3 linked regions of the Homo sapiens genome follow. The protein of the gene in region 3 interacts with the protein of the main gene of each other region in a pairwise test. Each region holds a gene or a part of one and is shown on either strand. Other genes may lie near its edges.

The links. Proteins that work in one complex are often made in the same cells at the same time.
Region 1: the proteins of ZBTB44 (region 3) and FAM124A interact in binary tests that used the Homo sapiens proteins (3 or more experiments, as listed by UniProt).
Region 2: the proteins of ZBTB44 (region 3) and WDFY3 interact in binary tests that used the Homo sapiens proteins (3 or more experiments, as listed by UniProt).

Annotation. Positions count from the first base shown.
Region 1 is NC_000013.11:51,273,757-51,281,397, reverse strand, and holds part of FAM124A (protein FAM124A), read right to left. Parts: intron 949-7,641; coding exon 142-948; 3' UTR 1-141.
Region 2 is NC_000004.12:84,669,691-84,677,331, forward strand, and holds part of WDFY3 (WD repeat and FYVE domain-containing protein 3), read right to left. Parts: coding exon 7,509-7,641; intron 3,302-7,508; coding exon 3,178-3,301; 3' UTR 1-3,177. UniProt on the Homo sapiens protein: Required for selective macroautophagy (aggrephagy). Acts as an adapter protein by linking specific proteins destined for degradation to the core autophagic machinery members, such as the ATG5-ATG12-ATG16L E3-like ligase, SQSTM1 and LC3.
Region 3 is NC_000011.10:130,304,258-130,312,540, forward strand, and holds part of ZBTB44 (zinc finger and BTB domain-containing protein 44), read right to left. Parts: intron 6,218-8,283; exon of another isoform or gene 5,923-6,217; intron 458-5,922; exon of another isoform or gene 380-457; intron 1-379. UniProt on the Homo sapiens protein: May be involved in transcriptional regulation.

The DNA of each region.
Region 1 (7,641 bases), on a different chromosome or scaffold from region 3:
GAGTGGGTGGTAGGCAAATGTGCTACGGGCTCCTGGGAAATGGATCATGAAGAATGTGGTGTGCTCAGTGGCCAGAGGGGCAGTGGGGCCTGAGTCTGTGTCTCTGAGTTTGTGTGTTTCGAGAACAAGAGCAGAGGGCATTCAGATGTAGAATTCCTCCATGTCGTTATCCCCGGGGCCAGCCGACCCTGGGGGTGGTGGCATGTCTCCATCAGTCTGCTTGACTTTGGGGGTATCGCATGGGAGCTGTGGGGAGGAGTCTGTGAGGGTGGAGGTGCTGGGAGCTGGGGGAGCAGCACGAGCTGTCGCTGAGGAGCTGGAAGACCTTTTGGTGAAGAAAGGGAGGGAAGCCCAGGAGGCCTCTGTGGTCACCCTGCTGACAGTGGGCAGTGGTCCCTCCCTGGAATCCTTGTGAGCTGCCCAGTGGCTGCTGCATCTTTCGGAGGGGAGGGGTGTCTCCACTGTGCTGCAGAACCTACTGGGTGCAGAATATGCAGAGACCACAGACAGGTCCGATGAGGACAGCCGCAGGCCTGTGTCCACGTCTGTCTCCTGGGCCCCCTCTAGGTCATCGATGGAGAGGAGGTGGCCATGCCTCCACTCTGATGCCCTGTGCCCTGGGGCACCTGTGTTTGAAAACCACTGTGGTTCAGCTGAGGAGGCCAGGGAGGGGCCTCCCGTGGGCAAACAAAACAAGGACTTGCTTCTCTGGAAAGACCAGGGAGGGTTGGGGGTGCTGTTGGCTCGTCCGGCAAATTCCTGCTGGTGCCCAGGAGGCAGGCCTGTCCGGATGGGCCCCGGGTGAGGACTGTTGAGCGGGGACTGCTGGCTGCTGCCAGGTGTATGGCTTGGTACAGCAGTGCTCGGCAAAGGAGTGGAATGACGTTTCTTCTCGGAGGCATGATGTACTCTGCCAGGTTTAGGAAACTTCTTATGCACCCTTTGTGCCTGTGGGGGGAGAGGCAGATCACATTAGTGCAGGATGGGAATTGTTAAATGCATCAGGAAACACAGTTACCAATCATTGGAAACTCCTGGCAATGTCATGGCAATAAAGCATTACCAGCATTACCAGTTCTGCAATCTCTAGAGCAAAGACAGAGGTAGCAGAGCTTTGAGGAGCACCAGAAAGAGTTTTCAGTCTGAGGAGCCATCTCCGAGGCTAGGAGGAGATTCAGCTCCTTATCACAATACAGAATACTTTTTAAAGCACACATGCCCATTGCGCTCAACAAACTGGCAAAAAGAACATGGGCCTGGCTGAGCAGGATAACGGAGATAAGAATTATCACAAAATGCAAAAAGAATGCTTGCAGGGTTTCTTTCCTTCCAACCAAAGAATCACAGTGTGCTCACCTGATAGACACTGTTTGTAAATGTTACTGATGAGAGGACAGAAGTGATCAGGATGGGCTATGCAGAGACAATTTCAGACCAGATCCACATGGGGTGTGATTCTAGTATATGCATGATAGCCAGGACACAGTCTTAGGGTGGGGTGGTCCATGGTTCCAGACAGTAAATCCTCCATGAGTGAGGGGCTATCGGGGTTAGCATTTATCTACTTGTTGCTAGTAACTACTGATTCCTCTATATACGTTACCTTTCAGGAACTGTGTACAGGAAAGGGAGCTGCCGCCTGCTGACTGATCCTGCGGATCCTGCAGGGGTTGGATGAGCAGCTTTGCCCTGTCATATCCCAGCCTATCCTCCTGGTCCAGCAGCCCTCCCTGGCCCTCACTGCAGCTCACCAGTAACCCGTTTCTGTTGTGCAGAACTGGAGACCTCTCTTCCAATGCGCATTTGCACCAGGGTCTGCTTCTCTCAGATTCTCTCTCTGGTCTGTGTCCAAGCATACAGGCCAGAACCCAAGGCCAACCTTACTATGCATCCAAGGTTTCAATTAAATAATGGGTTTGGGGGCAGTCGGTCTGGCTTGACTTAGTATATATTAATAGTACCTGATTTACAAATCCCTGCAATAAGAAAAGGGTTCTGACTGGGGTTTACTACAAGGGCTCTCGGCATCCAGCAGGAATGGAGAGTCACCCCTTTGGGATGGGGTAAGGAGCAGCCCCAAAAGGCTCAGATGTGCCTAAGAGGTGTCACAGCTGGGTGGCTGCTGGGGAAACAAACCAATTTTCTTAATCATTTGAATTGGCTGAATAAAAGAGAAAATAAGTCAAGAGAAAATAAAATGAGGCTATTAGAGAAAGAAGTCCTTGGGTACAGAGGTTGTTTCCGGGGGAGGGGGACAATGTTTATTAATTCAAATGTCTATCTTATTTTTTCCAAAGGCCAATTCCTTTGGGTGCCCTAATGTCATTTTCTTTCTTGATAAGTATGCATCACCTTGTAACTTCTGTCTTCAAAGTCTTATTTGAGAACATGCACTTGGTGAAAAATTTTGCAGTCCGAATCTGCCTGAAAAAGGAAGCCTTTGTGGTTGCTTTATGAGGAGCAGAAGGTCAAGGTTCCCATGCAAGGAATGCCAGGGGACGTCTAAATGTTCCCAGTGTCAGGGAATAGGGCACTGTTCAATTTGGCTTAAAATCAAGCACAACTGATGGAGGATGAACACTGTGTAGTTTTGCAGAGATTTTCACGACTGTGCTTGTTTAACAGAAATCTACCTGTATTCTCTTATTTTTACCACATGACGAAGGTAGGAATCCAGACAAACCCTACATTCTGCTGCTTTGAAGAGAGATGGTACCCGGTCTTTTTCACTGGAGGGTGCCCACGTGCACAGTGGAGCTGCCTGCTGGGTGGGCGGAATTTGAGGCTGATATGGCATTGTGAATAATGGCAGGAAATCCTGGGTGGCAGCAGGAGGCAGGTGCTTGAGGAGCCTCCACATCGCTCCTGAGGCCTGGAGCTGATGTGACTGCAGGGCTTGCATATGGGCGGATCTGGTGGTATTCTCTGGCTCTGTCCAGTGGCAGAGGGGTCAGTTTCTAAAAGTGGGGTCTTGTTGGATTTAAAGACAACCCGCACCTGTGAAGGTTGGAGCTCCTTTATGTGCTGTTCCCCTGGTGGTGGTTCCATCTCTGGCCTCCCTTGTGTGCTTGTCTGCTGACCAGAAACACTAGAGGCTGGGAGGGAGTTACTTTAGATGTTTCCAGAGACTCCTCCTCAGTGGACCTTTTTAGAGTGAAACAGGAACCTGAATCCTCCTCGCATGGAAGCCTCCCCCTGGCTTTCAGCTCTTGGAGGCTGCCCTCCTGAGCTGCTCCAAGTGACAGCAGCGATGTACTCGTTCCTTTCTTTCTCTTTGAAGCAGTGCAGGCTAGCTGCCTCCCTGGAATCCAGAAGCTCCCTTCTTTCTATTTAAGGAACTTTATCTAAGGAACAGAATAGCATCACATAAATTAATGTGCTTAAGGCAACCAGCCCGGGAAATTTGGCTATGTCCCTAAAGTCACCAAAAAATTGGAATTCAGTAACTGATCCAAAAGTTTTCCCTGCACCTTTGAGTACAGTTTGCAACTGGGGAAGCGAAGGGGTCTGCGGCGGACCACTGAGGCAAAGCATCTTTTTCAAGGATCTGGGTGTCAAGAGGCTCATACCCTGGCACATGGATAGAATCCTTTCTCTCTTTTTTTGAGACAGAGTCTCGCTCTGTCGCCAGGATGGAGTGCAGTGGCGCGATCTCAGCCCACTGCATCCTCTGCCTGCTGGGTTCAAGTGATTCTTCTGCCTCAGCCTCCTGAGTAGCTGGGACCACAGGCACGTGCCACCACACCCGGCTAATTTTTTGTATTTTTAGTAGAGACAAGGTTTCACCATGTTAGCCAGGATGGTCTCAATCTTCTGACCTCGTGGTCCACCCGCCTCGGCCTCCCAAAGTGCTGGGATTACAGGCGTGAGCCACCATGCCCGGCCAATTCTTTCTCTTTAATTTTTTACTTTTTATAGATTTAGGGAGTACAAGTGCAGATTTCTTATGTGCAGATACTGCATAGTGATGAGGTCTGGGCTTTTAGTGTACCCATCACCCAAATAGTGAACAGCGCACCCAATAGGTAATTTTCAGCCCTCACCCCTGGTCACCCTCCCACCCTCCCACCCTGTGGAGGCTCCAGTGTCTCTTATTCCACTCTGCATGTCCATGTGTACCCATTGTTTAGGTCTCACTTCTAAATGAGAACATGTGGTATTTGACTTTCTGTTTCTGAGTTATTTCATTTAAGATAATGACCTCCAATTCTAACCATGTGGCTGTAAAAGATGTGATTTCATTCCTTTTTATAGTTAAGGAGTATTCCATGCTATATATACCGCATTTTTTTTTCCAGTCATCCACTTGATGGACACTTAGGTTGATTCCATATCTTTGCTACTGTGGACAGTGCTGTGATAAACATACGAGTGCAGCTATCTTTTTGGTAAGAATCTTTTCTTCTTAAATCGCTAGTAAAGGTGATTCTGCCCCTCCCCCAGGAGCCCTGGCAGAGTCTCATGATTTGTTCATGGTCAGGGACTTTACCCTCAGCCTCACACCTCCTCTTTCCCAGTAAGATCATTTCCTCTTGTGTTTTCCTTGGCAGAAACATGAGCAGTGTGACAATGTCTGCTGTGTAATGAGCCCGTGATGGCCATTTTAACACAGGGACTAATACAAATTTGGGGCTGTCTCAAGAAAATTGGGCAACGGGTTCACATTGAGAAATCAGAGTCTTGCTCTAAAGAAAAATACCATGTTTTGCTTTTCCTTTCCCTTTCCTTTGGGTGGTTTTCACACACTCACTAAGGATGCTGGCCATGGGCAAAGCCTGTGTTGTCTTTCTGGAATGGTCAGTACAGGAAGAGGATTTGGATGGAAAGGGCAAAGTTCACCCTAAGAATGGACAAAGCCCGTACACGTTTTGTAAAATCAGTGATGTTTTTGGTAGAAAGTTTGAAAGTTGTCAAAGAGATGCTGAGCTAGACAGGATGGCGGTTGAGCAAATGCTTGCTGGATTGTCATCTGTCTACCTTCTCTTCCTGTCGCTATTATGGAAGTGTAAGGCTTTCTGGAAAATCATCAGTTATAGCAACATACCAATTCCATTCTCTGCATAGAATGGCAGGTAGTATAATTCAGGGTAAAAGTACTTATTCCCCCAAATTGGTAAAATGGCAGCAAAGTGATAATTAGCACCCCCTGTGGCTTCCTGCCAAGAGTTACTTAGCCTCCCTAGCTTCACCCCGCATACCTCTTGAGTGATCTCTCTGAAAGTCAAACCTGAACAAGCTCCTTGGCAAAACTCACTCCTTGGCAAGCTCTACAAGACCCGGCCTACCCCTTGAGCCTTGTGTCTTTCTAGAATCCTAACTCATGTGCGCCAGCAGTTTACAACTACCATGCTCCCAAACACCTCATGCTCGTTTGTATCTCCATGACTTTACATGGTGCTCCCAGTGTCTGTGCACTTAGAGAATACCTGCCATCTTCGGAGACAAAATTCAAGGTGCTGCTGTGAAGCCTCATTTGGCCACTTCCCCTCATTTGGTGAACAACATGCACTCATTTCTCTTGGGTATATTCCCAGGAGTGGAAATGCTGGGCCACAGCATGAGCATGTTTGCGGCTTTAGTAGATACTGTCAGTTTCCAAATTGGTTGCGTCGATACATAATTCTACCAGGAATTTATAAGTATTCCAGTTGCTCCACGTCCTCACCAGCATTTGGCATTGTAATTCTTTTTAATTTTAGCCATTCTGGTGGGTAATGGCATTTCATCATGTTGTTAATTTGCATTTCCCTGATGAGTGATGATATTGAGCATCTTATGAGATGTTTATGGGCTATTTAGGCATTGCTTTTAGAGACATGCCTGCTTTTTATGCATACTCTGGATTTAACACCTTTCTTAGATATATGCATTGCAAAAAATATCATCAGCCAGTTTGTGGCTTACCTTTTTGTTCTCTTATTGGTATCTTTTGATGAACAGAAGTTCTTTTTAAAGTCATTTATCTTTTTTTCTTTAAGGCTGGTACTTACTGTACTCTGGTTTATTTCTTTATTTCTTTAGAGACAGGGCCTCCTTCTGTTACCCAGGCTGGCGTGCAGTGGCACGATTATAGCTTATTGCAGCCTCAAACTCCTGGGCTCATGTGATCCTCCTGCTGCAGCTGCCTGAGTAGCTAGAGCTAAAGGCATGTGATACTATGCTCAGCCAATTTTTTTTTTTTTTTTTTTGTATATACAGGGTCTGGCTATGTTTCCCAGACTGGTCTTGAATTCCTGGCCTCAGGTGATCCTCCTGCCTTGGCCTCCCAAAGCACTGGGATTTCAGGCATGAGCCATCATGCCTGGCCCCTTGCTCTATTTTAAAAACTTTTTGCTACTGCATCCAGTAGCCATTGTGAACCAGGATTCCTGAGTACTGTGGATGACCACAGGGAGGACAGAAAATAAGCCACTCTTGATTAAGCCACGATTCTTTAGGTCCCTATCATTCTCAGTTGTACTTGAGCTTACAAATTACTCCAACAAATAGGAGATATTGATATATTTAGAGGAACTGGGTTAATTGTTAAATCTTCACTTAGTTCTGTGAGGCTTTTAGAAATTGGGTTGCTTGACATCTGATCCTGCAATTATGTGTTTAAACAAATGTTCAGTTTTGTACATAGCAAGCACTCAATATATTCCTGAATGAATAAATACAAAAATACATGTGAGATACAAATACATATCTTCTAAAATAACTTAAGGTAATTTTAAGGTACTTATATGTGTGTAAGTTATGATATATGCCTATATATCATAAATCATAAATACCAATAAATATTATTTGATTTTAACAGAAAAAAGTTATGAGGACTCTGATATTTTTGGGAAAAGCAGTAGCAACATCTAATGATAAAGAGCAACTTTTCAAATAAAAAAATATCTGAGTAGTTGCCTCAGGGACCAGCTTTGTTTAATACAGGTTGAGTATTCCTAATCCCAAATCTGAAATCCAAAATGCTTCAAAATCTGAAACCTTTTGAGTGCTGACATGATGCTCAAAGGAATGCTCACTGAAGCATTTTGGATTGTGGATTTCCAATGCTCAAGTGATAAGTATAATGCAAATATTCCAAAATCCAAAAAAATCTGAAATCTTAATCACTTCTGATCCCAAGCATTTCAGAGAAGGGATAGTCAACCTGTATCAGTAGTGACTCTTGTGAAAATGTGGCAAGGATCCTAGGAGATACTATTAATAAACAGAAAAGGGCTGGGCACCTAGAAGTTCTAGGAAACAACATGGATATTGATCTGATGTATATTAAAAAGCTATTCACTTAAGGAGGAACAACAGAGAAAATCAAAGTGACAGCTGAGGACCCGGAGCTAGCGCCAACAAATCTAATGATAGAATCTGTAAAACTTGAAAGAATATCATGCCCAGGTGCAAGCTTTCTCTTTGTATAAGTTCTGCATCTTTCCCCGAATATTTATTTTTGGTGTAATTTGTGAATTACCCTGCCCATTGGCTGTAAAACACAGGAGTAGACAGAACTGATTTTTATATTAACAAAGGATCATCAGAGTTTCATTAAGTATCATTGATTTTAAGAAATTTCCAAAGAGAAATATCCCGTGACATAGTTCAATGACCAGGAGGAGCTGACAGAAACAATTAACAATAACTTAGGTTAAA
Region 2 (7,641 bases), on a different chromosome or scaffold from region 3:
GACTGCACACTAGATAGTAATTCTTCAGGTCTTTTACATAACCACCAAGAAACAGATATTGGTTTCTGCAATATAGTATAAAAGTCCACAATCAATCCAGTCTTAGCCAGTATCTTCAATTTACTTCTGTTGCTGTACAAATAATTGGCCATTACTAGGGCTTACAAGTTAATAACAGGACAAAAAATATACATTGCACTGACACAAAAAGTCAGCTGTGTTAAGAGTCATGCAACAAGTAACCAAACTTGCTGAAATTAAAAATACTTTCTAAAAACAGTTTTAACGGCATAAATATTTTATACACAGTTCATTTACCAAAACAAAATGTATTTAAATGATACAAAGCAAAAATAAGTTTCTACCAACTTTATACATAAGAAAGTGCAAAATAACTTATCTAGAGTGTTTTGCTATTATCCAGACGGATGGCTGCTATGGGCAGCTATTCTCTTCTTCAAAAGCATGACATTAGAGTTGCACACTACATAGAAATGTTAGAATACATGGATGAACAAATGAACAGGTGGATGGATGAATGAACAAACTACAAAGATCAGGCAGGAGCCCTATGAGGTACTCTCAGAAAAAGAATGCAGACCATACTAAGGTAGATGTACATGTTGACAATAGATGTTGGTAAATAAATTTACATGGAACACAGAAAGATATCCAGAGAAATAATTAGTTTATGTATGTGAGTGTACTTGTATGTGTGAGTGATTCTGTTGATTTCTGCATTAGAGGCAAAAAGAAAAGAAACCCGATTGAACAAAACAGTTGCCCACAGCACCAGCTGCCAGAGGAAATACTACCATGAGGGTTTTGGTTTCCACCTTCTAGTTATGGAAGTTCTGTTAGAAAGTTAGTAATGGAAGTTGTGTCGGAAAGTTTAAAAGTGTTCATCCCATATAGTTTCCTATTACAAAGAGGAATAACCTTTAAGTAACTACACACACACATTCATATATTCAAGTCTTTAAAGAACACCTCTGCCACTGGGTATGGGGTAAACATGATTCATGGACAAAAGGAGGACGCTTCTTTTAAAAAGTGTAGAATAACACTGCTACAAATCATCTAGAGGGCCAGACAGGGGCAAGGCCCACAGTTACATAATAGCACAATTTCTGCAACTGTTGAACATCAGCATTATTTATTAGAATTGAAGATGGTGATGGGGGAGGGAGAGTGTGGGGGGAGTAAGACACAGAAAGGAAAACAGAACACAACTTTTCTTTAAATTAAAGTATTAATGCCGATAATCCTTTTATTAACAAGTATATTTGAACTTTTAGAAATGGAAGTGTTTTAATCAATTTTGATATGTAATCATAAATAGACTGTAGGCTCAAACCCAGGTAAATAAAGATTTAAATTTAGTAAGCGTAAGGCACTAAAGCAGCCTTTCTATTTTCTCTTGGAGACCTAGTTATCATATCAGGAAGAACAAATTTGTTCTTAAGCTGGTTTCAGCCCATCAGGTACAAGATCACCATTGTACCAAATGCCTATTTTTGAATGCATGTGCATATATGTGCATTTTAGTGCATAAGTGTGCCTCTCACCAGGGCCTAAAGATGGAAAATTGGAAAAGCCAAAGCCGCTGTCCTTTGCATGATGCCTCTGTGAGGGTGTGAAGGCCTTTCCTTTCGCACCTGTGAAGGTGTGAAGGCCTATCTTGGGCCATTAATGATTCTATATTTTTCAAATCACAGGGCTTTTAGAATTGTTCATAATGTTATCACTAAGTTTCTGAAAATGTTAAAATCTAGATTAATTGTTTCATTTTTAATATATATTATATATATATATATATGTACATAACACACATTTAAAAAAATCCCACCACCAAGCCTTTTCTCTGTAAACTAATCTCTTAGCCCCTTCCAGCTTTAATCCCCCTGGATTTGTGTGTTCTGTATCCAACTAGTAGAACAAATTAAATAACTAAATATTAAAATACTGTAATTATATTCATAGCAAAAACAAAAAAATAGACATTGATACAGTATAAATCTCACTGTTTTCAGGTAGATGACATTAAATGGTAAAGGTTAATTTTAAGCAGTTCTGACATGATTCAGTTTTACAACAAAGTTTATATGTTAATTCTGTACACTTCTTTCTTTCCTTTTTTTACCCCTTGTTTGAAAATAAGCTATAGTAGAACATTAGTGTCACCAAAGACACATACTTATTATGTTCTATGCAAGATAAGCTAATTTTGGGTTACATGCAAATATATTTCCATTAGTTGAGACAGGGCTGTTTCCTGCACTACACTGGTCATCTGACCACCTTTCTGCAATGCTAAGAAGGTATTCTTTGACCAAACAGCAGTCCACATACAAGTTTAAAAGGGGCCCTGTTTATGTAGGAACAACACTGAGGTGGTGCGTAGCCAGGTACAAGACGCCCAAATATTTCCAGTTTATCTTACGGCTGGACTCCTATTCTCCCACACTGTTTCCTAAAGAAGGTCCACATTATTTTGGTTACTAGCCTAGTTTAAGTGGAGATACTGTGGGCAACTTGAAAGAAATGACATCAGGCACACAGGCTGAGCTTGAAAGGAAAAAAAGACCACAGATAATGTCTTTGGGGATTTAAAAAAACATATTTATAATTAATTGGTAAGTGAGGGATGTCAGACAAACCATAAGTAGTTCATTGAGTTAGTGGTTTAGTTTGAAGTTTCATGTTACAGGCAGTTAAGTCCTTATTTAGAAAAAAGGCCTTTTATATCTATTTACAATATACATAGTTACTTGCAAAGAAGTCAGATTTACAACCATTTTCTAAAAGCCTTTTTTGTTGTTGGTTTTTCCAAATAAGGATGAGTAGCTCTATAAAAATGAGATGCAAGAAAAGAGAGTTAATAAGTGAGGATTTTTCTCTTGGAGACAGCTACTGTCATCAGGGAGAACTGGAGGTCGAAAGTGTTGCTCCTAGGAACCACCTCATATTCTTCTTGTGCTGTTCACCTGAATCGCGTCTGCCCCATTCCTGTACTCTACACCCGTTTTATTCAATGATCCCTTTGAATTTTAACACTTCAAACACGTGGTATGAAGAGATGTGTAAACGGAGACTGTTTTCAATGCCTTCCAAGCTGGGACAGGAGAATCGGGAAGGGGTCTACAGACCATGGTCTCCACTCAGCTTGTTGAATCTTCAACAATTTCGAGGCCCATCTTCTGAACCTCTCTCATGCTGTAAGTTATAATAACAGTTCTGACAAACACGCACCGGGGATGAGATTTTCAAGCGTTTGATTTCAGATTGAAAGCGACTGCACCTAAAGGAAAGGAAAAGTCAATTAATTATAGGTCTTCTCCATGCTTGATCATGGGCACCGGAAACATTAATAATCGAATGGAAAGCTTGCAGTAAAATGCCAAAGGCCATACTGGTTTGTGTTGTGTGGCTGAACAAGGACTAAAAGGAAAGCTGTATTATTTGTTTCAGTCTATGAAGAAAAGCAGTATTAAACCAGGGAAGCTATTTCTTTGACTGACAAGAATTAAAAAAACGAAAACAAAAAAACAGAGTTAAGATTTTCCTATACAATGAGGCCAAGGTGTCTGAACAGTGATGTAAGGCCATTCTACCTGTGTAGACTAATTCTCATGGCCTATAAGCTTGGGAGGTATGTCAATGTCTTTACCTGGAGCTTGACATATTTCTCTTGGAAATCAGAAAAACTCACTAGCGGAAATTAGAAGACTCACTAATGAGTATCTATTTTCAAGAGAATTACTAATGACTCATTAGTGAGTCTTCTAATTTCCAAAAGAAATATGAGTTTGATCACTATCAAGTTCCATTGTGCTTTTAAACATTTTGATTGATCCACTCTTTAATCATTTCTTAAACAGTTAGACTGGCTTTCCTTTTCCAGTCCCAACACCCTCATTTCCTATTTATCTTGCTAGAACTGTTTGAAGGAGACTATTCTTAAGAGATGTTCAAATTCTTTAAGAAGTATTCAGAGTTCCTATTCCTGGAATAAAGCCAGGTGTGACTCAGGATGTGGTATTAAATCACTTTAGGCTTGGATTTTCAGAAGATTGAAATGGAAATGAAAAAAAAAATTTTTTTTTGGTAGGGATGGGGTCTCATTACATTGTCCAGGCTGTCCTCAAACTCCTGGCCTCAAGTGATCTTCCTGCCTTGACCTCCCAAAGTGCTGAGACTACAGACGTGAGCCACTGTGCCTGGCCTTGAAATGGAGATTTATGTTTAGTCCATTAATCTACCAGTAAAAATGTCCAGAGAGTAAATTAAGTACTATAACCTTATGGGTTTAAAGGACTGTCACTGGACCTCTCAGATCCCTCAAGAGTGTCAACAGCTCTCAGCCATAGAGACCACAGGCTGTGTGTTCTGGAAAGCACTTCCTTCTGTGCCTGCTTCATCAGAACTTATCACTGTTTGGTCAGTTTCCAATAAAGCTTCCATCCAACATTTAATAGCAATGGATAATTTAAAGAATTACCTATATTTAAACAATATTTTGAAAATTAAACACTACAAAGAACAGATGTGTGCCAGCATACATACGGGAGTGCTAGTACAAATCACTAGATTAATATGATGGGTGTGGAGGCTGAAAACTGTAATCCCAGCACTTTAGGAGGCTGAGGCGGGGGTACTGCTTGAGCCCGCGGCTGTGAGACCAGCCTGGGGAACATAGTGAGACTCTATCTCTACAAAAAATACAAAAATTAGCCAGGTGTGGTGGCTCTTGCCTATAGTCTCAGCTACTTGGAAGGCTGAGGTGGGAGGACTGCTTGAGCCTGGGAGATCAAAGCTGCACTGAGCTGTGATCGTGCCACTGTACTCCAGCCTGGGTGATAGAGGAAGACCCCATCTCAAGAAATATATATATATAGGCTGGGTGCGGAGGCTCATGACTGTAATCCCAGCACTTTGGGAGGCCAAGGTGGGCAGACCACAAGGTCAGGAGTTCGAGACGAGCCTGGCCAATATGGTGAAACCCCGTCTCTACTAAGAATACAAAAATTAGCCAGGCGTGGTGGTGCACGCCTGTAGTCCCAGCTACTCAGGAAGCTGAGGTAGAAGAATCGCTTGAACCCAGGAGGCGGAGGCTGCAGTGAGCCGAGATCACGCCACTGCACTCCAGCCTGGGTGACAGAGTGAGACTCCGTCTCAAAAAAAATAAAAATAAAAATAAAAGATATATATATATATGTCTAGCGGCTCTGTGCTTTGAAAGGCCTGCTCTATAAAACCCATTATGGGTTTTTAAATTTATTATCTATTTTTTTGAGATGGAGTCTTGCTCTGTTGCTCAGGCTGGATGGAGTGCAGTGGCGTGATCTCGGGTCACTGCAACCTCTGTCTGCTGGGTTCAAGTGATTCTCTCGCCTCAACCTCCTGAGTAGCTCACCACCACACCTGGCTAATTTTTGTATTTTTAGTACAGACAGGGTTTTGCCATGTTGGCCAGGCTGGTCTCGAACTCCTGACCTCAGGTGATCAGCCCACCTCAGCCTCCCAAAGTGCTGGCATTACAGGCATGAGCCACTGTGCCCGGTCCCATTATAGGTTTTATAGAGCAGGCCTTTCAAAGCACAGAGCCACTAGACAGAATCCTCTGCCAGCCTCACAGAAATTCCCACAGGAAATGGCTGGCTGCAACATTTTGGGTCCCTCATCTTGAACCAGACTGCCCAGCAGAAAAGGTTTAAGGAATCAAATGATGGAACACCTGTTTTGCCAGACTCTGAACTTGGTGCTTTACAACACTCATATATGTGATCTCATTTAATTCTCTCAATAGCTCTAAGAGGACTGGTCTTCTTACCCACATTTACAGATAAAGAAACCAAAGCTCAGAGAGGCTCGGTAACTTGCTGGCATTATGGCAACAGAAAGTAGCACAGTGAGCATTTGGTCAGTGTAAACCCAAAGACTATGCCCATACCAGTAAGCCAATGCTGCCTATAAAACCTCAGGAATGGACTCATAATTACACAAGTTGAGAATAATATGCTTTCTATGAAAGCATCTCTGGAGTAAGGCAATATAAGCCTTAAAGTGTACTGTCCATGGAATCCTTTCTGTTGTCTGGCAGAAAAAGTAACGACTGTGGATGTGTATCTGGGACCCAGGTGTAGGACAGAGATATCAACCAAATCTATAGCCATGGGACCACTGACCTTTCATATGGGGGAAAAATAGATCCTCGCCTCATGTTATACCCCAAAATAAATTACAAATGAATTAAAGACCTAAATGTGAAAAATAAAACTTTGAAACCTTTAAAAGAAAATAAACAAGATTATCTTTGTGATCCTAGGACAGAGAAAGAATTCTTAAGGCACAAAAAAGCAAAAATCATAGAGTAATACATGTGACTACAACCAGTTTAAAAACTTGTAGATGACAGAAAAAACATATACAAAGTTGAAACACAAGCCACAGACTGGCAGAACGTATCTGCAAGATATATAAAAAACAAAGGTGTACAGCACAGAATATATAAAAGAACTCCTCAAGGAAAAAAAAAGGGCAAAGTACCCAAAAGGAAACCCAAATAGCCAACAAACATGAAAAGATGTTGTCTCACTAGCATTGCAAGTTAAAACAACAAAGCACTATTTTTTAGCTATCAGATTGGCAAAAGTGGAAAAAGTCTGGCAGTACCAAGCATGACTAAGAATTTGGAGAACCTTCATGGCCTGTTGGAGGTAGTGGAGGTAGTATTAACTAGCACTACTGTTTTGAAGAGTAATTTGGCAATATCTAATTAAGATCAAGAATAAGTCTGTGTTCTATCAATTTCATTCCATCTCTAGAGGAATTCTAGCTTGTGTATTAGAAGGGCATTTATAGGGATGTGCATTGTAGCATTATTTATAGTACTGATAAAAATAGAAAAAAAAAAACCCTGAGAGGGCATCAAAAGGGAAATAATGATGATAAATTCATATAATTAAAATAACCGACAGTAGTTAAAATGAATATATTACAATAAGATATCTATATAAATGGATTTCAAAAACAATGTTGAGTAAGAAAGTTACAGAAGGGCAAAAACAGTATAGTACGTAAAGCTGAAAAGTAAAGCTGAGAACACCAAAATAGTATGATGTAATGTTTACAGAGGCAACACATGTTCCTGAAAGCATAAAAACATGGAGAATGGGTGTGATTGGTGAAAGGTGCAAAGAGGATACTTACAATGTATCTATAGTGTTTATAGAATCATTTCACATACAGGTCTCTAAATTAAATACGATGAAATATTAGCATATGTGCATTCTGTGTCATGGATGACAAGGTGTTTGTGACTTGTATGACAGAAAAATTTCCTAATTGTAGTAATAAAGAAGAACAGAAAAAGTGAAGACTGGTTCATACCAACAAGGCATACTGTAGTGGGGACGCCAGGGCAAATCAGAACCTGTGTGCAGGACATAATTAACAACCTTAGAGCTTAATCAATGTAAATTCAAAAAGCAGATATCTTATCTTACTTCTGGCAGAAGAGCTGACCACAGTTCCTGCAATGGTGTCGTCTTTCTGTGAGTGAAAACCTCACCGAGCAGCCTGAGCAGCTGTCACCACCTTCATCCTTCACCCAGTGATCAGCAGCAGAACGGCCTGGCT
Region 3 (8,283 bases):
CAGTTGTGAATGTGGTAGCACTTAAAAAGCAAAAACACCCCATAACGCTTATATAGAGTGTATTCAATAGGGGTTACAAAATGTCAGGAAACCACAGGCGGAAATTTGATATATGAAATATTTATAAGAGTATTAAAAAATCATATTGGAAGGAGCTTAATTAGAAGCCTCCTAAGTAATGAGGGAACCCTCTTTACAACAGTCTTTAATGCTTGACCATTTTCAGTGATAAAAGACTAGGAAGAGTTAATAAATTTTTCAGAGGATCATCGTACACAGACATGGAGGATACAGCATGTTACTGGTTTTTACACAGCTGCCAATACTGCTTTATAATAAGAATATACATATATTTTTCTCTTTTTTAAAAAAAATATTGATTTTTCCAGTGCTCTACATATTCAGAGAAACTTCTCTAGAAACAAACTATAGAAATGATCCCTGAAAGTACAGTCCTAAGAATATATTTTTAGTCAGTAACATTTTATTTTGAAAACTTTTAGATACAGCAAAATTTAAAGAATTTTATACCAAGCTGCAAAGGAGGAAGTCAAACTGTTGCTGTTTGCTGATGATACAAACTTATACCTAGAAAACCCTCAAGATTCATTTGAAAAGCTCCTAGATCTGATAAATGAATTCAGTGAAGTTTCAGGATACAAAATTAATGTACACAAATCAGTAGCACTGCTATACACCAATGATGACCAAGCCGAGAATCAAATCAAGAACGCAATCCCTTTTACAACAGCTGCCAAAGAAAAATTAAAATACTTAGGAATATACCTAACCAAGGAGGTGAAAGATCTCTACAAGGAAGACTACAAAACACTGTTCAAACAAATCATCGATGACACAAACAAATGGAAACACATCCCATGCTCATGGATGGGTAGAATCAATATGGTGACAATGACCTTACTGCCAAATGCAATCTACAGATTTAATGCAATTCACATCAAAATACCATCATCATTCTATAGAACTAGAAAACACAATTCTAAAATTCATATGGAACCAAAAAAGAGCCCACATAGTCAAAGCAAGACTAAGCAAAAATAACAAATCTGGAGGAACCACATTACCTGACTTCAAACTACACTACAAGGCTATAGTCACCAAAACAGCATGGTACTGGTATAAAAACAGGCATGTAGACCGATGGAACAGAATAGAGAACCCCAAAATAAAGCCAAATACTTACAGCCAACTGGTCTTTGACAAAGCAAACAAAAACATAAAGTGGAGAAAGGACACCCTATTCAACAAACAGTGCTGGGATAATTGGCAAGCCACATGTAGAAGAATGAAACTGGATCTTTATCTTTCATCTTACACAAAAATCAACACAAGGTGGATCAAAGACTTAAATCTTAAGGCCTGAAACCATAAAAATTCTGGAAGATAACATCAGAAAAACTCTTCTAGACATTAGCTTAGGCAAAGAATTCATGACCAAAAAACCAAAAGCGAATGCAACAAAAATAAATGGGACCTAATTAAACTAAAAAGCTTCTACATAGCAAAAGAAATAATCAGCAGAGTAAAGAGACAACCCAAAGTGGTAGAAAATTTTTGCAAAGTATGCATCCAACAAAGGACTAATATCCAGAATCTACAAGGAATACAAACAAACCAGCAAAAACAAACGAACAAACAAAAACCACCAATCCTGTCAAAAAATGGGTTAAAAAAAACATAGACAATTCTCAAATGATATAAAAACAGCCAACAAACACATGAAAAAATGTTTAACATCCCTAATTATCAGGGAAATGCAAATTAAAACCACAATTAGATACTACCTTACTCCTGTAAGAATGGCTATAATTTAAAAATTAAAAATAATAAATATTGGCATGACTGTGGTGAAAAGGGAACACTTTTACACTGCTGGTGGAAATGTAAACTAGTACAACCACTATGAAAAACAGTATGGAGATTCCTTTAAGAACTAAAAGTAGGCTGGGCACGATGGCTCACACTTGTAATCCCAGCACTTTGGGAAGCTGAGGTGGGCGGATCACCTGAGGTCGGGAGTTCGAGACCAGCCTGACCAACATGGAGAAAACCCACCTCTCCTAAGAATACAAAATTAGCTGGGCGTGGTGGTGCATGCCTGTAATCCCAGCTACTTGGGAGGCTGAGGCAGGAGAATGGCTTGAACCCAGGAGGCAGAGGTTGCAGTGAGCCGAGATTGCGCCACTGCACTCCAACCTGGGCAACAAGAGCTAAACTCCACTCAAAAAAAAAAAAGAACTAAAAGTAGAACTACCATTTGATCCAGCAATCCCACTACTGGGTATCTACCCAAAAGAAAAGAAGTCATTATGTGAAAAAGACACATGTACACACACTTACAGCAGCACAATTCACAATTGCAAAAATATAGAACCAACCTAAACGCCCATCAAACAACGAGCAGATAAAGAAAACGTGGTATATTTACACCATGAAAACTGAATGAAATACTGGCTTTTGCAGCAACTTGGATGGAGTTGTAAGCCATTATTCTAAGTGAAGTAACTCAGGAATGGAAAACCAAATATCGTATGTTCTCACTTATAAGTGGGAGCTAAGCTACAAGGACGCAAAAGCATATGAAGGATATAACGGACTTTGGGGACTTGGAGGGAAGGGTGCAAGTGGGGTGAGGGATAAAAGACTACACATTGGGTACAGCGTACACTGCTCAGGTGACGGGTGCACCAAAATGTCAGAAATCACCACTAAAGAACTTATCCATATAGCCAAAAACCACCTGCACCCCCAAAACTATCAACATTCAAAAAAAAAAAAAATCAAAGAACAAGCAAAAAAAAAAAAAATTATAGTTGAATACCTGAATAGCCATACCTAAAGCCCACCATTAACATTCTACTGTAGCCCGGGTGTGGTGGCTAACGCTTGTAATCCCAGCACTTTGGGAGGCCAAGGTGGGCAGATCACAAGGTAAGGAGACCAAGACCATCCTGGCTAACACGGTGAAACCCCGTCTCTACTAAAAATACAAAAAAATTAGCCAGGCATGGTGGCAGGCACCTGTAGTCCCAGCTGCTTGGGAGGCTGAGGCAGGAGAATGGCGTGAACCCAGGGGATGAAGCTTGCAGTGAGCTGAGATCGTGCCACTGCACTCCAGCCTGGGCAACACAGCAAGACTCTGTCTCAAAAAAAAAAAAAAAAGTCTACTGTTATTGTTTTATCACATACCTATCCATCCATCAATCCATCTTGATTTTTACTCTACTTTTAAAATGCCTTTTAAAGTAGTATCTAAATGCAGTTTCTGAAGCAAGGGGTCAGAAACTCCCGCACCTATGAGAAAGGAAAATGATATACAATCATGCGTGGCATGTGTCCCTCAATGATAGACCACAAATACCACAACCGTCCCATATTATAATACCATATTATTTTTGAGACAAGAGTCTCATTCTGTCGCTCAGGCTGGAGGGCAGTGGTGCAATCTGGGCTCACTGCTGGAGGAATCACATTACCTGACTTCAAACTATACTACAAGGCTATAGTTACCAAAACAGCATGGTACTGGTGTAACCTTCCAGGTTCAAGCAATTCTCCTGTCTCAGCCTCCCAAGTAGCTGTGACTACAGGTGCATGCCACCACACTTGGCTAATTTTTGTATTTTTAGTAGAGACAGGGTTTCACTATATTGGTCAGGCTGGTCTCGAGCTCCTGACCTTAGGTGAGCCACCCGCCTCCGCCTCCCAAAGTACTGGGATTACAGGCATGAGCCACCGTGCGCAACCCTGTAATACCATATTTTTACTGCACCTTTTCTAGGTTTAGATATGCTTAGATATACATATACTTTCCACTGCATTACAAAAGCCTACAGCATTCAGTACAGTAACATGCTGTACAGATACGTGGCCTAGGAGCAACAGGCTATACCATATAACCTAGATGTAGAGTAGGCCATACCATCAAGTTTTGTCTAAGTACACTTTATGATGTTCATACAATGACACAATCGCCTAACGACGCATTTCTCAGAACATATCCCCGTTGCAATCTCTGAGGTTGTTACAGCATCAGTCATGTAGTTCCGTATTCATGGTGACTGAAAATTTATTCAATTTTTATGACTTGTTACATTTAGTTGTGAGGTGGAGCAAAGCAGCTAAGTGCTAACTCTAAACAGCCTTGAATTTGAAACCTGGGTCGGCCACTTATTGTGATACTCTAGGCAAGTCATTTAATGCTTTTAGATACCAGTTTCCTTACTGCAAAATAAGATACTAGTAGCAATGTCAAAGTGTTAATGTGAGATTTAAATAAGATAATGTATAAAATGTTTAGCACAGCTGGCATACAGAAAGGGCATAACAAATGTTAGCATTATTATCAACACTGTATTAGTTCATTCAGCCTACACAACAGGTTCTAGCTGCTACATGGCTACACATACCCATGCAACTGTTTATAGTATTCTTCTTCATCACCTTATATGTTCTAAGAACCTTGGGTAGTGTATGTATTTTACTGAGATTAAAGACAGAATGAGGGTGAATGGGTCCAAGTGCAAGCATTCTCCATCTTCCCACTCCACTCCCTAATGGAACTAGATGTTCACTCTGTTATTGAAAGCAGTGATTGTGGAGTCCTAGTAAGGGAAAAGGAGTCAGGCGGGTGGGAAAAGGGTACAGCAAAAAGAAAAAGCAGATAAGGTATAAGTCTGCCTTTCTTCATGGTCCAAGACACACAGCCCTCTTGCACAAATAACTCACAAGCTTTCTGCACTCAACTTATCACCAGACTCTCAGCTGACAGAAAAATGCAAGTTAGCTCACTGCAACCTTGGCCTTATCAGTACTGCACATAGCCCTCTCTGCAGCACACAGCAGAAGCATCATCCTGTAACATGCCCAGCAAGCCATTGTCTCCTGGCAGTCAGCTTCTCTCTTGCTGATCTGCCCGTTGCACCCTTGCAACCAACCTACTTTCATACTTTCTCTAATAAATCTGCCCTTCTTTACCTACAATTGCCTTGGTAATTCCTTTACCACCTGCAACGCCAGCCTCAGCTAGTGTGACCTATGACAGTGAGGATGAACACAGGAAAACACACTACAGGCACAGTTTTGCTTTTCAGCACTTGGTTGACAGGAGGCTGATAAACTGCCTAATTGTGCTCTGCTTACTTTAGATGAACACTGCTCCCTCTTAAAACTTCATTTGAGATCACATAATTATGAATTTATATCAAATTTGGTCCAACCCAAACAAAATGTGTTATCTCCACTGATCACATATCCAAATGCCTTTTTATCTGTACATAGCATATTTATGCCAGTTTTGTTGTAGATGGAGTCACCTGGGCGCAGTGGCTCACGTCTGTAATTCCAGCACTTTAGGAGGCCAGGATTACACTTCAGGAGGCCGAGGCAGGTGAATCACTTGAGGTCAGGAGCTCGAGACCAGCCTGGACAACATGGTGAAACCCCATCTCTACTAATACAAAAATTAGCTGGGCGTGGTGGTACATGCCTGTAATCCCAGCTACTAGGGAGGCTGAGGCAGGAGAATCGCTTGAACCCAGGGGGCAGAGGTGGATTGCAGTGAGCTGAGATCGAGCCACTGCATTCCAGCCTGGGCAACAGAGGGCGACTGCATCTCAAAAAAAAAAAAAAAAAGTTAAAAAAGTAGATGGAGTCATAAAACCTCTACCAACTACCTGCCTCTTTAAAGACATGATTTAAGTAAAAGCTACAGTTCTATTTTTATGGAATTTTTATTTAAAAATATGGTATCTAGGCCTACGGCTACAGGCTTACATGTGTAATCTTAGCACTTTGGGAGGCCAAGGCAGCAGGATCACTTGAGCTCAGGAGTTTGAGAGATCAGCCTGGACAACATAATGAGAATCTATCACTATTTTAAATCACTATTTAAGAAAAAGAGCTGGGCGCAGTGGTGTGTGCCTGTAGTCCCAGCTACTCAAGAGGCTGAGGCAGGAAGATCCCTTGAGCCCAGAAGTTCTGGACTGTAGTATCCTATGCCGATTGGGTGTCTGCACTAAATTAGGCATCAACATGGTGACCTCCAGGGAGTGAGGGACCACCAGGTTGCCTAATGAGAGAAGTGGCCCAGGTCAGAAACAGAGCAGGTCAAAACTCCCGTGCTTATCAGTAGTAGGATCACATCTGTGAATAGCCACTGCACTCCAGCCTGAGCAACACAGTAAATCCCCCGTCTTTAAAAAAAAAAAAAAGTAAGCATGGAATCCACTTCTCTGCTAACTTCTAAAAACTAGTCTTAGTTCTCTTTGCCAGAGGAAGCAGAATCTAATTTTAAAATTTAAAAGTACTTCTATGTGGCTTCACATAACATAATTTGTCTATTGCTAATTCTTCTGAGCTTGATGTGAGAATGTAGTAGATACTAAAAGGAGTATGGTAAAGGTAAACAATACTTCATCTTTAAAAACTAATTTTAATGAGGTTTATCCAAATATAGTTTTTTTTTGTTTTGTTTTGCTTTTGAGATGGAGTCCCGCTTTGTCACCCAGGCTGCAGTGCAATGGCGCAATCTTGGCTCACTGCAACCTCCCCGGTTCAAGCAATTCTCCTGCCTCAGCTTCCCAAGTAGCTGAGACTACAGGCATGTGCCACCATGCCCGGCTAATCCAAGTATAGTTTTAAAACATTATTTTGACTTCTACACTATGTACATACTTTACATATTCAAAAATAAAATCCTAAGTAAAAACTGAAACCTATGAACCATATCAAATTGGTAGCATAACCAGAGAAAAGTATTTCAAGTGACTTTTGAACACAGTACTCATTATACATTCTTCATGCAATATAGTCTAAATACGAAAATAAATGCAAAGAAATCTTAAACTACATGAAGCTTATTGGTATTAGCAATACCAGCACTATAATTTTAAAATGATTTTATGTATACAGTGGGAGAAAGCAAATAAGTTTATTATTTTTTTTGGAGACAGGGTCTCACTCTGTCATCCAGGCTGAAGTGCAGTGGGGTATGAACATGGCTCACTGCAGCCTCAACCTCCTGGGCTCAAGTGATCCACCTGCTTCAGCCTCCTGAGCAGCTGGGAACACAGGCACACACCACCACGCCTGGCTAATTTTTTTATTTTTTATAGAGATGGGGTCTCATCATGTTGCCCAGGCTGGCCTTGAACTCCTGGGCTCAAGCAATCCTTCCACCTCGGCCTTTCAACGTCCTGGGATTACAGGCATGAGCCACTGTGCTTGGCCAGTTTATTAACTGTATTAAAAACCAAGATTTTCATTTAAGACAAGAGACAAATATAGAGTCAAGGAAGAAAAAGTCTGCTTGTTAAATAGGAATTGGAATATCACTCTGAACTCATGATTAAACAAGCAAAAACCTTTTTCTTAGTTCTCTCCTCTCAAAGCACCTAGAAGCAATGATACTGCAGCAGCAACGAATATGCCAAACATCCAGAACTTGGTTTCTATATACGATTTCTCATTAAAAAGAACCAAGACTCCCTGGATAAACAGCTCTTTCCAGAGGTGAGCAAAGAAAGTATAAGATAAACCCTGGAGTAACTCGTGTCAGAAAGCACTCCAAGATTAATGGGGAGCAGGGGTGTCAAGACACACAATAGTCAGCTTGAAATGGTTCCTACTGACCAAATCTGGGACAATTTGGTCATTAAAAAGAAAGACGACTGTAACTGGTTATAAAACAAGGAATAAATTAAAACCCATGAGAGTCTGAAGTGGTATCATTCACCCCTGCCCCAAAAAACATCATTGGGGGTGGCTATTTCTCCAGCTCTTTACTATGAATATTGAAAAGTAAAGAGATTAAATTTAACATTTAATTTGCATTTTGGGGAAGAACAATAGTTTACCTGCACTTAATGAAGGAAATCTCTTCCTTACAGAGAACCTCCAATAACTGATTTAAGCAAAAGTCATCATGGGTGCTAAAAACCACTAAGCAAAAGATTGTCAGAAACTGGGTATTTGCTTAGTGTCCAAGTTTTACCCCAAGATTACATATTAATCACAAACTGGCAAACCACACCTTTACAACAGATCAGTAGTCAGCACTTTAATCAAATGGTTACATTTAGCATCATTAATAGTGTGGGAATCTGACATTGTGTGCCTCCTATATTATGCAACAGGAGGTACACAGCATCACCTATTAAATATTCTTGCCAAAGGAAGTTTTACTTTAAGCTAATTAAGCCTTCCTTTACACCTAACTTCCAGTTAATAGGAAATTCAGGGAGAAAGAGGAATAAACGAAAT